2 linked regions of the Homo sapiens genome follow. The protein of the gene in region 1 interacts with the protein of each later gene in a pairwise test. Each region holds a gene or a part of one and is shown in the gene's direction. Other genes may lie near its edges. The genes, in order: MSS51 and TFG.

Region 1 (3,823 bases):
ACTTAGGTCCTCATTTTTTGTCACCCAGGCTACAGAGATTAGAACAGTGTTCTAATCCTGCTTATTTTTGGTGTTATTGGGAAGTGAGACAAGAAACCACAATACAATCCTCTCTGTCTCTCTCTTGAGTACTCAAGGAGTAAGACTACATTTGTTCTGGGGAGGTGGAGGTTGAACCATACCTGTTATGAGAGGACAGCTGCAAACTCGTGGTGTTTTTTCTAAAAGTGATATAAAAAGTGAGTTGTTCCAGATAGAGAGTAAGGTATCACTCTGTCTGGCAGAATAATTATATTCCCAATCCCTCCTGCCTTGTCTGCCAAATGTAGTCCCCAAAATTGGTGCATCAGCTCTCATTCCTCTCCCTACCTTCCTTACCCATTCACCATCCTAGGTGCAGGAATATCAGTTCCTTTCCTCCGATAACCCCAATCATATTTATAGTATAAGAACTATTTCTCTCTCATTCTCTCAGGTGCAGAAATGTCTATTACTGTGGTCCAGAGTGCCAGAAGTCAGACTGGCCCGCACACAGGAGGGTTTGTCAAGAGCTTCGTCTTGTGGCTGTGGACCGTCTCATGGAATGGCTTCTGGTCACAGGTGGAGTGGTGGTGTTGAGGATCTCTGCCATAATGGTCATAGTTGATTGCATTTAAAGGAAGATACAAAATCATATTGTTATGAAAAAATGAGGAAGTGGGGCAAAGGATGGGGCACGCCTGCTCACAGGTTGGCAGAGTGAACATGGAGGGAATATTGATCATTAGTGAGGGGGAAATTTTGAAGCCAGGAAAGCATTAGGTTACTTCTTATTTCTTCTTTCCTACAGGTGATTTTGTTCTACCCTCAGGACCTTGGCCATGGCCACCTGAAGCTGTACAGGACTGGGACTCCTGGTTTTCTATGAAGGGGTTACACCTAGATGCTACATTGGATGCTGTGCTAGTTAGTCATGCTGTGACCACCTTATGGGCCAGTGTAGGACGGCCAAGGCCAGACCCGGATGTCCTGCAGGGATCTTTGAAGCGGCTGCTGACAGATGTCCTGTCACGGCCCTTGACTCTAGGCCTAGGACTTAGGGCCTTGGGGATAGATGTTAGGAGGACTGGGGGAAGCACAGTGCATGTGGTTGGTGCTTCCCATGTGGAGACATTTCTTACTCGCCCAGGGGACTATGATGAGCTTGGTTACATGTTTCCTGGGCACCTTGGACTCCGTGTGGTCATGGTGGGTGTAGATGTAGCTACTGGCTTTTCACAGAGCACCTCAACTTCACCCCTGGAACCTGGCACAATTCAGCTTAGTGCCCACAGGGGCCTCTACCATGACTTCTGGGAGGAGCAAGTAGAGACCGGGCAGACACACCATCCAGATTTGGTGGCGGCATTCCATCCAGGTAAGAGTCATTGGTTCAGGGGAATAGAGGGTGGCTCCCCTGAGAATTTTCCATCCTGAATCTTCTGTCTTTGGAACCCCATTCATTTGGTCTCATTAAACACAATATGATGACAACTTTTCTTTTTTTTTTTTTCTTTTTTTTTTTTTGAGACGGAGTCTCGCTCTGTCGCCCAGGCTGGAGTGCAGTGGCGCGATCTCGGCTCACTGCAAGCTCCACCTCCCGGGTTCACGCCATTCTCCTGCCTCAGCCTCCCGAGTAGCTGGGACTACAGGCGCCTGGCTAATTTTTTGTATTTTTAGTAGAGGCGGGGTTTCACTGTGTTAGCCACGATGATCTCGATCTCCTGACCTTATGATCCGCCCGCCTCTGCCTCCCAAAGTGCTGGGATTACAGGCGTGAGCCACCGCGCCCAGCCTGATGACAACTTTTCTTGATAATTTGCCATATGTACTACACTTGGGTTCAGAATTTTTCATTGAAGAGTGGATGATGATGATGATGATAATGACTGGGGATAAGCAAGGTGAGGGGTGGGGTGCTCACAGTCAAAGAAATATCTTGCTCTTAGGGTCTGCTTTAGTCTTTCCCTATTCCCATTTTCATTTTTGTTCCACAGGTTTTCATTCCTCCCCAGACTTGATGGAGGCTTGGCTGCCCACCCTGCTGCTACTTCGTGACTATAAGATTCCTACATTGATTACTGTTTACAGGTTTTGACCTCATCCTATTTGTGATACTTCCCTGACTTTACATCTCTCTTTATATAGATGAGCTCATTTTTGCCCCCCTCTTGCTCATCTACCTTCTGGTGAGGATGTTCTTTTCCGCATATGGCTTTTTTATCCCCTTGGAACAGTCCTTTGCTAGTTAATGGAATATTTAATGAGACATTTGGGAGGGAAAGATAGCCCTTGCCTAGTCCAGCCTTAGGCAATTTGGGGGATGGGTGATTACAGAAATGTCAGGCTCTTGGGCAGTTTTTCCTTTATCTCTGTCACAATCAGTAGAGTAATTTTTCTTCTCTCTCTTCTACAGCCATCAGGAGTTGGTATCCTCTTTGCAGATTCTGGTGGAACTGGATACACACATCACTGCCTTTGGGTCTAATCCTTTCATGTCCCTCAAACCTGAACAGGTCTATTCCAGTCCCAACAAGCAGCCAGTATACTGCAGTGCATACTATATCATGTTTCTTGGAAGCTCCTGTCAGCTGGATAATAGGCAATTAGAAGAGAAAGTGGACGGCGGGATTTAAATAGATCATAACTGGACATCTGGAAAACGGGGAGTTTGTGATGAAATTACCCTGCTAATGCCAGGTTCTTGCAAACTTTGAAAAACATTATATTCTAAACCTCATTTACTGTTTGGGTAAAAATTCTAAGCTGAATGAGAGTTTCTGTATAACATAACTGGTTTCTTTCTTTTTTTGAGATGGAGTCTTGCTCTGTTGCCCAGGCTGGAGTGCAGCGGCATGATCTCGACTCACTGCAGCCTCCGCCTCCTGGGTTCAAGTGGTTCTCCTGCCTCAGCCTCCCTAGTAGCTGGGATTACAGGTGCACACCACCACACCTGGCTAATTTTTGTATTTTTAGCAGACAGGGTTTCACCATGTTGGCCAGGCTCGTATCAAACCCTTGACCCCAGGTGATCTGCCTGCCTCAGCCTCCCAAAGTTCTGGGATTACAGGCATGAGCCACCATGCCCAGCCAATGTAACTGGTTTCTAAGAGTTTAGCCACAGTAGCTTCTAGAGATAGGAAATTAGATTTAGTGGGTGGGAAGAGGCCCTGATGCTGGTCTTTCCAGAGCTTATAGTTGCTAACACTTTTCTTTGTAAAGAAGTTTACCTTTTGACTGGAACCAGATGGCACTGAGAAAAAGAATGAGAACCACCTTATTCTTCTGAAAAAGACTTTCTTCTCATCCAGTAATTTGGGCTAAAAAATGGAAAGATGTTGATGACTTGAAGTGATGCAAGAATGGACAAGTCAGGGAAGTCATTGGGAACATGGATGAGGTTGTAAGCATTGGTACAGTGTCCTGTTTCCTGACTTTTTTGAGAGAAATGTCTACTTTTCCTGTTTTCTCTTGGGGACTTTTGACCCTAGAGTAGCCCTGGTGTTATATTTTAGATATCCCAAGCTATATCAGACTTTACCTGAATATACTGGAGTTACTTATTATCCCCCATTCTATACCCCAATAAACTCAGTTTGGGGCTTCTTAAGTCACTTGTTTTATTTCCTATTCACTGGCAAGTATTACTCATCTGCACATAACACCTCAAGACTGGAAGTTTCTCTCTTGCCAACAGAGTAATTAGCATCAGTTCTCTGGGTCTGCCACTCTGTCACACATTTGCCTCATGTCATCCTTTTCTTTTTTATTTCTTTTTCTTTTTTCTTTTTGGAGACAGAGTCTT
Region 2 (3,823 bases), on another chromosome or scaffold:
AGCAAACTTATCCTACCTTCTTCTGCCTGTTTTGTGATAGCTGCACTGGCAGCTGATTGGGTGGTGCCCACCAACACTGAAGATGGGTCTTCCTCTTCTGGTTCACTGACTCAAATGTCAGTGTCCTCTGGCAACACCCTCACAGACACACCCAGAAACAGTACTTTACCAGCCATCTAGGCATTCCTCACTCTAATCAAGCTGACACCTAATATTAACTTAATTAATTTAAACTTAGCTAATTTAAACTTTTAATTGAGTATAATTTGGAGCTTAGTGCTCTTAAACCCACTGAGTAGATAATAACAGATTATAGGCCATACTAGGAATGTAAATGCAAGGTTCTTAAAAGTTCTGGTAAGATGTATCAGTGTGCTCCAAAGACCACCAGGAACACACCTGTAGTTGAATGAAGTTGGGTTTACTGACTTACTGCAGCAAGGGAGAATGAATACCACGGAGAACAATAGGATGTCTTACAAGTATGTTAGAAAAGTATTTTTTTTTGGGCTTGGGTTTGTGTTACCTGATTTTGGATAAGGTTCAAGGAAGTAGAGCTTTGCTCTGCATTGGATGCTCTCAGGAAGTAGAGATGATTCTATGTTTGGGTATCTTATCAAATCTTATCTAGAAGGTGAGAGGAATGAATCTTACTAAATCTTATCTGGAAGGTGAGAGGAATGAATTGAGGCTAAAGCTGCAGTTGGTAAAGTAGTAGCAGTTACTCATATTAGCCAGGATAAAAGGTTGTTTGGTCATTTTTCTGGTGTGGTCAGTGTTCTTGTTTTTGTCTGGAGTTTTGACATGGTTATGGACTGTTGATCTATCACAGATTATAGTCTTGTGTGATGTTGGTGTTCTTTGAAATATTTATATTCAACGGGAGAACACCACAGCCTACCTGTGAGTGCCAGGCCAGCTTCCAGCAACACTAAGGCCTGTCTTACTGTACCAGACCAGTTTCTGGCTGCTAGGAGCTGTTTTTCTCATCAAATATTGGAGAAAAAACAGTAATACCAAGTGAAAACCAATAATTGATGTAGGTAGGAGATTGTATTGAACTTCATAGCTATGCAGGGAGTATGTGAATTACTGTGAGTTTTCTTCTAAAAGCTTATAATTGGTGGTTTGATTTTGAAACATGTTTAACAAAGAATCGCCCTGAACTTTTATTTTCACGTAGATGTCCTTTTCTAATTAGGTGCTTCAGGAGTTTGTATGTATGTATACTGGCAATGTGCAAAGCATTTTAGTTTAATTTTTGAACGCCTGTCTTGGGGTTTGCAATCAGAGCCTTGTGTCACTTTCTTTTTAAAAATAACCTGAGTGGTGACAGTGTTTGTTGCTGAATGAAGGATTTCATTTTTTTCAGTCAACTGAAAATCATTTGGACAAAATGAATAATAAGTGAAGTAATGTTGCTTTCATTAAAAAATCACAACTAGAGATTACCGAGTAATCTCTGGCATTTTGTGGCTTATATACTGTTTCTGGAAGTAACTGCTTTGAAGGACAGTCATGATGTAGATAAGTTCTGCATATATTTTTAAATTTATATTTATTTTTTAAAATTTTTTGAGACAAGGTCTCCCTCTGTCATCCAGGCTGGAGTGCAGTGGAGTGATCTCAGCCAACTGGACTTCCCCTCCCGGGATCAAGCAATCCTCCCACCCCAGCCTCCTGAGTAGCTGGGACTGCAGGCATGTGCTGCCACACTTGGCTAATTTTTTAAGGTTTTTGTAGAGATGAAGTCTCACTGTATTGCTCAGGTTTTTCTTGAACTCCTGGGCTCAAGCAGTTCTCCCTCCTTGGCTTCCCAAAGTGGTGGGATTACAGGTGTGAGCCACCATGCCTGGCCCTGCATATATTTTTTTAACGATTTCTTTTAAGATCAGCTATTTTAGTTAGCTGTTTTTTTTCAAGACAAAGTTATGCAAGAGGGATAACAGACCTATCAGTCATGTTATATCTTTAAACATGTATAGAGTAAGGTATTTTTGTATTATTTTAAGAATAGCGTGAAATAAAATGAGCTTTTTAAGTTATATAATTTTTATTAAATTTAATAATTTCTATTAAATTTAATAAATATTTAAGAACAGCATGAAATAAAGTGAGCTTTTGAAGTTATGATTTTTATTAAATTTAATCATTTCTATTAAAAAGTAGAGCTCGGATTTTCCTACCAAACCTTTTTACCAGTAAGGTCATAGGCTATAGGTATGGCATCAAGAAAGACTGATAATTCTGCTTTTTTTCCAAAATAAGTTATTAGCCATAGAGAATTCTTTTTTTTTAAAAAAAAAGTTACTCCATTACATTGATATCTTGTTTTTGTTTTTTTAAAGGAATTGTATTTATTTTTCCTTGTTGCATATTATTAGTATACTTATTCATGAACTTCTAATTTTAAGCAAATAAATGTTTTTATTTCAGTTAATGGCCAGCCAAGACCCCTTGAATCAAGTCAGGTGAAATATCTCCGTCGAGAACTGATAGAACTTCGAAATAAAGTGAATCGTTTATTGGATAGCTTGGAACCACCTGGAGAACCAGGACCTTCCACCAATATTCCTGAAAATGGTAAACCCTGAATCCATTGTATTCTGACTTATTGTTCTTACGTCTTTTTGGAGGTTTTAAAAAACTCTTTTTAAGTAGGAGAAGGATGGCATCCCCAATGTCACTCTTGTTTCTTCCTCTGCCTCTCTACTAGTATTTATGTCTGTGTTCCTAAACTTTGCTGTTCATCAGAATTACTAGGAGGTTTCATTATACCAATTTCTGGATCTCATCATAGACCTACTGGAGCGTAGCACCTGGAAATCCCATTTTTAAAGTGTTTTTTGGGTGATTCTTTCGCAACTAGTCTTAGACTTTTGGATTTGTTACACAGGTCAGTTTTCAAATCCTTTTGACACATGAACCCTTTTTAGTATAATAGATAAGTAATGAACCTTGGGAATTGAAAATCATTTCATGAATAATTACATAGTGTTGGAAGTATTTTCAACTAAAAATCACTTAGATTAGTAATGTTCATTAAAAATGGTATGTTGTAAATTTGAAACACAGTTTTTAATAATAATTAAAGAAAAACTAATTTTTTCCCCATTGTATAATGACATGTACTGTTTGTGTTAAGATAAAGCAAAATGTGTCAACATTTGGAACTGACATAATTTTGGGACCGAATGTATTTTAAAATGTGGACTGAACTTTAAGTATGTGTTAATGACTTGAAAGTACAGTTAAAAAACTGCTTTCTTCTTTTAAGATTCTTAGATGTTGCATTTAAAGAAAACTCTTATTATTATTTTTTTCTTTTTACAAATTCTTTGTTTGCTTATAATTTTCATAGTTTAAAACTGTCCATATTGTGAAATAGTAATTTAAAAAAAGTCTAGACTGGATGACTGCATATAAAGGGCTTAACATGAGATAATTTTTGTGGATAAATGGTATGTATTCTATTTTTGGCCACTAAATATTTTGGAAGTTTTTGTTTTCTATTTTTATTTTAGTTACAGTTTAAATAAAGATGTATTTTCCATCATTTCTCTCTTCCTGTCTTCTAATAGTCATATGGAATTATGTTAATGATAGATGTTTAATAAATATTTGGTGATTGATTATTCCTAGTTGCACTTCTATTTCAGAACATAATGGAGATTTGCTGAATACTATAATGAGATCCTCTTGGTCACTTTATGATGAAACCTTTTATATTTCAGGTCAAAGAAGGTTGCCTATTCTGAGCCCTACCTCTCCAAACAAAAATTTCCAATTTTAGATCAAGAATCAATGAAAAAGTTAGACAATT

The links.
Region 2: the proteins of MSS51 (region 1) and TFG interact in binary tests that used the Homo sapiens proteins (3 or more experiments, as listed by UniProt).

The regions. Positions count from the first base shown.
Region 1 is NC_000010.11:73,423,384-73,427,206, reverse strand, and holds the end of MSS51 (putative protein MSS51 homolog, mitochondrial), read left to right. Parts: intron 1-475; coding exon 476-600; intron 601-829; coding exon 830-1,396; intron 1,397-2,015; coding exon 2,016-2,109; intron 2,110-2,434; coding exon 2,435-2,654; 3' UTR 2,655-3,628; downstream 3,629-3,823.
Region 2 is NC_000003.12:100,726,276-100,730,098, forward strand, and holds part of TFG (protein TFG), read left to right. Parts: intron 1-2,436; coding exon 2,437-2,583; intron 2,584-3,823. UniProt on the Homo sapiens protein: Plays a role in the normal dynamic function of the endoplasmic reticulum (ER) and its associated microtubules. Required for secretory cargo traffic from the endoplasmic reticulum to the Golgi apparatus.